Linked DNA regions of Homo sapiens: region 1 is linked to region 2. Evidence: fine-mapped expression QTL. Tissue or cell type: non-classical monocytes. Region 2 holds a variant in brackets; the other region holds the start of a gene. All regions are shown on one strand. Distances are between the middles of the regions.

Region 1 (2,755 bases), 42 kb after region 2:
AACACGGTGAGACCCTCGTCTCTACTAAAAATACAAAATTAGGTGGGCGTGGTGGCGCATGCCTGTAATCCCAGCTACTCAGGAGGCAAGGCTGGAGAATCGCTTGAAACCGGGATGCTGAGGTTGCAGTGAGCTGAGATTGTGCCATTGCACTCCAGCCTGGGCGACCAGAGCGAAACTCCGCCTCAAAAACACAAACAACAACAAAAACAGAAAGAGAAGCAATGTCTCACTCCCACGTAATGCAAACCTCTGAGGATGCCAAATGCCCTAGCCCTACAACCCTGATCCAAGAGCAATGTACACAGGTAGCAGCACATTTCTTAACACCAATGCTACCCGTAAAGTACCTCTGGTGAGGATTAGCGGGAGGGTTTTTCCGCATAAAGACCTGCCACCTGAAGGTTAGACTCAGAACAGAGGAAGAAAACTGAGTCCTGAAGATAGAACGCAAAGGAAGTCTCTAACTTTAGAGTCCCTGGAGTCACAGCAGGCAGGCAGGCGCACCGCCGATACTGCCAAGAGGACCAGAGTTCGCAACTCCCCGCAGCAGTTCCGGAAGCTGGGGACGAAGCCAAGGAGAGAGGACGTGGGCAGGGCCGTGCGCGGACTTGTCCCGGCGCCTAGATCCCCGCCTTTGCCCGGGCGCACTGCGCGCGCGGCCCCCGCCGCTTTTGTCTTCTTCGCCCGACCGGGAACTTCCTCTGTCCCGCCCTCGGGCGCGCACACGGGAACTTGGGTAGGAAACGGAAAGCGTTTTGTGCATTTTTTTTTTAACAGAGTAAACTGACGCAGAAAATTCAGCATCTAACCTCCCCAGGACCCCCTATGGTCACCAGTTACCAACCTCCGGGCTGTCCCGGGCGGCGGCGACGGCAACGTTCACGCGCGCCGCGAGTTCCCAACACCCCTCTTTCGGCACTTCCGAGTCCCAGCGACATCGGCGGCGGCTGCGGGCTTCCCCGGGACGCCACCCTCTTTCCCCCGGAGCTGCCCTTTGGAGGAGCAGCGCAGCGCGCGTCCTCCGAGCACGCCCCTGCCGCCGTGCCCGCGCGCCCTCCGCGCCCGGACTCGGGAACCCGCGGCGCTCTCCGGGCGATGGCGAGCAGGCCGTGCTGCTGCAGGGGGCGGGCCAGAGCGCGGCCTGCGTTTCTGAACCGCGTTTGCCCCGCCGGCGGCCCGGGGCCCCTAGCCCCGCTCACCCCTCGGCTGTTGGTTCCCACTGACCCTGGCGTGCATATCTCTCCCCCACCCGTGTGTTCATTGCAGGTCTGGGGCTGCCTGCAAGTTAATTGCAGAGTGGAAGTCACCTGAAACTCGAGGTGGGCCGTCATTCCAACACCAGTGGTCCCCACCTACGTTTTGTAGGCGAAAGGAGGTAGTTCGGTGCGGTGGAAAGAGGGTGGGCTTTGCAGCCCTGGCAGCTTCGAGGGCTTACTGTGTGAACTTAGCCCCTGTGAGCCTCCCTGTACACCTCTGTAAAACAGAAATAGACTTCCCTGCTTTTCTTTGTAAATTAGAGTGAAGATCAAATAGAATAAACTTTATGAATTGTAAAGCAACTTACAGAGATCACTACTGCAAAATGGGTACGAAGATTTTGATTGCGTTGTGAAAAGAGTGGAAGATCTGAAGATGCTCCAACGGGGTATAATTGGGACGATGTTGCTGCTCGGAGGCCTCCAAGCCTGAGCCAAGAGACAGGCTTGCCAGAGTTCTCCAGACTTATCTCAGCAGAATCACGTGGCTCTCATTAAAACCTCGGGCTTCTGGATCCCTCCCCAAACCAAAAGCATCAGACTGTCCATGGCAGGGGCGTCTCAGGTGGTTCTATGATAAGGTGAAGGTGGATAACTCTGCCCTAGGCAGCAGGGAAACTCGGAAGCTGTGCTCTCAGAAATTTCATCTAGCAGTCATTGTAATGGTCGAGAGGATTATTTTAATGATTTTAGAATTCTCCAGGAAACCAGAGTATGAACTCTCCAAGAGCTGGAGCTATCTTTTCTTTCTGCTTCCCCCCAACCCACTCACCCCAAAACCTGGTACTGGATGGTGTTCAGTAAGCAGGTGTTAGTAAACTAGCCCCAAATAGGAGTGCCAGATTTAGCAAATAAAAATACAGCATACTCAATTAAAATTGAATTTCAGGCTGGGCGCGGTGGCCCACGCCTGTAATCTCAGCACTTTAGGAGCGGTAGCAGGAGGATCACTTGAGGCCAGGAGTTTGAGACCAGCCTGGCCAACATGGTGAGACCCCGTCTCTACTAAAAATACAAAAATTAGCCGGGTGTGGTGGCCTGCACCTGTAATCCCAGCCACTTGGGAGGCTGAGGCACGAGAATCGCTTGAACCCGGGCGGCAGAGGTTGCAGTGAGCTCAGATCGCACCACTGCACTCCAACCTGGGTGACTGAGCCGGACTCTGTCTCAAAAAAATAAGTAAATAATTTCAGGTGAACAATATGTAACTTTTTAGTATCACTATGACCCATGCAATATTTGGGATATACTTATTTTTTTTAAGTACTTACAGGAAGCTTGTAATCCCAGCACTTTGGGAGGTCGAGGTGAGTAGATAACTTGAATCCAGGAGTTCGAGACCAGCCTGGCCAACATGATGAAACTCCATCTCTACCAAAAAAAAAAAAAAAAAATGGTATATCTGAAATTCAAATTTACATCCTGGGTATCTGAAAATCAAACTTAACTGGGTATTTTATCTGTCAACTCTAGATCCAAGGGTTTGGCAGAGGGAG
Region 2 (2,755 bases):
CAGGGCCAGCTTTCAGGCAGGACCCACGAGCAGGGCCAATTGTCCTGGCTGTGTACAGCTCTGGCCCTTGTTAAATACTTCACACATCAGCCATATTAAAGCTAGGGGTGTCCTCCTGGAATTCTCAAATAGAGTATAAACTTGTTGAGTAGAGAAATAATGCCTCTTAATTCCTTAACCCACAGCATTATCACAACCCAGATCAGAAAGCAGGCAGTAAGCACTGACTTGTAAGCTGACTGGTTTGTGACTGAGAAATTTCTCACCATTCTCAACAGTGGGAATGTCTTCATCTTTGCATCGAACTCCCTCAAACATTAGTAGACTCTTGATAATGTTTGCTGAATTGAGGTGAATATGCCCACTGGGGTTGGGGACTTCTTATAAAGGAACATTGATCTCTTGGCAACGTTTGCTTTGTTTCATGTGTGTAAACTCTGGTGAGTTTACAGAGGTTAGGCCTTAACTCATTTTCATTAAGCCGCAGCCCCTCAAAGATTATTCCAGCATGTCTGTCATCTCTCTGCTTCCCTCCATCTGATGGGAGCAGATTAATAAGTGATTTGGCTGTGTGCGTGAATGTTCAGCCTGTCTTACCAGAAAACTGGATTTTATACAGTTTTTCCCCTTCCCAGAGAGGCTTGCTTAGCAGAGACAGATTCCTGTGTTCCATGCCAGCCCCTCCAAAGAATGTGGGTTGAAGAGTCTCCAAAATGTCAGGGGCAAGAAACCCATGGATTAGGCCAGGCAGGGTGGCTCACACCTGTAATCCCAGCACTTTGGGAGGCCAAGGCAGGTGGATCACTTGAGGACAGGAGTTTGAGGCCAGCCTAGCCAGCATGTTGAAAACCTGTCTCTACTAAAAATACAAAAAGTTAGCCAAGTATGATGGCACATGCCTGTAGGCCCTGCTTGGGAGGCTGAGGCACGAGAATCGCTTGAACTTGGGAGGCAGAGGTTACAGTGAACCATGGTTGTGCCACTGCACTCTAACACAGGCAATAGAGTGAGACTCTGTCTCAAAAAAATAAATAAGAAAAAAAAGAAACCCATGATTGGTGATGGAAGGTCAGGTTTGCTTCCTTCTTGTGAACACAAAGAATGCCGGCTCTTTACCCATCAGTACATGACCTTTTGTCTAGTCTCATCCATGCTAGATTTTCTTCCTGACATGTAAATTTGCGGACAGGTAGGAAAAATGTAAGATGTTAGTGATTTCCTGGTGAGAACAGGAATAGGAATTGTAGCTCTCTGCCTAACGTAAAAATAGGATCTGCAGCCAGGTGTGGTGGTTCATGCCTGTAATCCCAGCACTTTGGGAGGCCAAGGCTGGTGGATCACGAGGTCAGGAGATCAAGACCATCCTAACTAATGCGGTGAAACCCCGTCTCTACTACAAATACAAAAACTTAGCTGGGCATGGTGGCACATGCCTGTAGTCCCAGCTACTCGGGAGGCTGAGGCAAGAGAATCGCTTGAACCCGGGAGGCGGAGGTTGCAGTGAGCCAAGATCATGTCACTGCACTCCAGCCTGGGTGACAGAGTGAGACTCCGTCTCCAAAAAAAAAAAAAAAAAAAAA[T/AAAT]AGCATCTGCAATGTGAATGGATAAACATCAAATTTGCTTATTAATTTTTAGCCACCAGGTACCCTGCTCTGTTCTCTCTCTCTTCTATCTAGTAGTTCATGGGAAATATTATTTGTTTCATTAAAAAGGTCCTTAAAGGCCAGATGCAGTGGCTCACACCTGTAATCCCAGCAATTTGAGAGGCCAAGATGGGTGGATCATGAGGTCAGGAGTTCAAGACCAGCCTGGCCAACATAGTGAAACTCCATCTCTACTAAAAATACAAAAATTAGCCAGGCATGGTGATGGGCACCTGTAATCCCAGGTACTTGGGAGGCTGAGGCAGGAGAATCGCTTGAACCCAGGAGGCAGAGGTTGCAGTGAGCCAAGATCATGCACTGCACTCCAGCCTGGGTGACACAGTGAGACTCTGCATTCAGGAAAAAAAAAAAAAAAAAAAAAAAAAAGTCATTGAAGAAGCTAGGAGAAAATAAGGTGAAGGTAGAATCAAGGGTTTAGCTCTGCAAAACTAACAGATCAAGAGTGTGTGTGTGTATATGTGTATGCAGAGAGAGAAGAGAAAGAAGAGAGAGACAGGGCAAGGCAGGAAAATCAGTCAGAGGGCTCCAGAAAGAGTCCACAGAACAAATGGCACCTGAAACCCTTCAATGACTGACCACTGCCTTCTGGATAAAGTCCAGACTCCGCATATGGCACTTCATGGCCTTTACGATCTATCCCCTCCCTGTCTTGAGTCATTTGCCCTCCTCACAACTCAACCTTCTAGCCAAGCCAAATTTATTTCACTCAAATCCAGGTCGTCAGGCATGCTATACCCTTCACCTACCTTTCCCGTCTCCCAGCCATCACCTCCCTTCAGTCCCTGCCGCTGGGGTTCTCTGCACCCTCTGTCTCTACAAGCCCCAGTGGCTGTTGCACCACCAGCTCACTGTCACATCATCACCTTCCCCCAAACTTCAGAGCCCACTTAGGACAGAGACTGAGCCTGGAATGTCACAGCATCCCTGGCACGTGGCCTGGAAGCTGCTTACACAGCAGGTGTGCATTTAACTCATGTGTTAAATGAGTCAAAATGGAATGTTGTTTTCCTGAAGTATTAAAATGCAGAGGCATTTATAAATAAGCCAAATCTTAAAAATCTTCATGGGCAAAGCATGAGTAGCTAAGAACTGTG

The links. PIP is the estimated chance that this variant, and not a neighbour inherited with it, causes the effect.
Region 1: HHAT starts here. The variant in region 2 is fine-mapped to the expression of HHAT in non-classical monocytes (Schmiedel 2018, PIP 0.95).

Annotation. Positions count from the first base shown.
Region 1 is chr1:210,327,197-210,329,951 of GRCh38, reverse strand. It overlaps HHAT (hedgehog acyltransferase), which reads right to left and starts at 1,050. Exons shown (of 12, transcript NM_018194.6): 1 at 848-1,050. RefSeq lists enhancers at 474-833, 1,708-1,877 and a silencer at 994-1,243.
Region 2 is chr1:210,369,436-210,372,190 of GRCh38, reverse strand. The region is part of intron 3 of HHAT (hedgehog acyltransferase); the gene reads right to left. Among named protein-coding and RNA genes, the nearest start is that of HHAT, 42 kb to the right of the region's middle. The variant T/AAAT (reference allele first, on the strand shown) is at 1,581.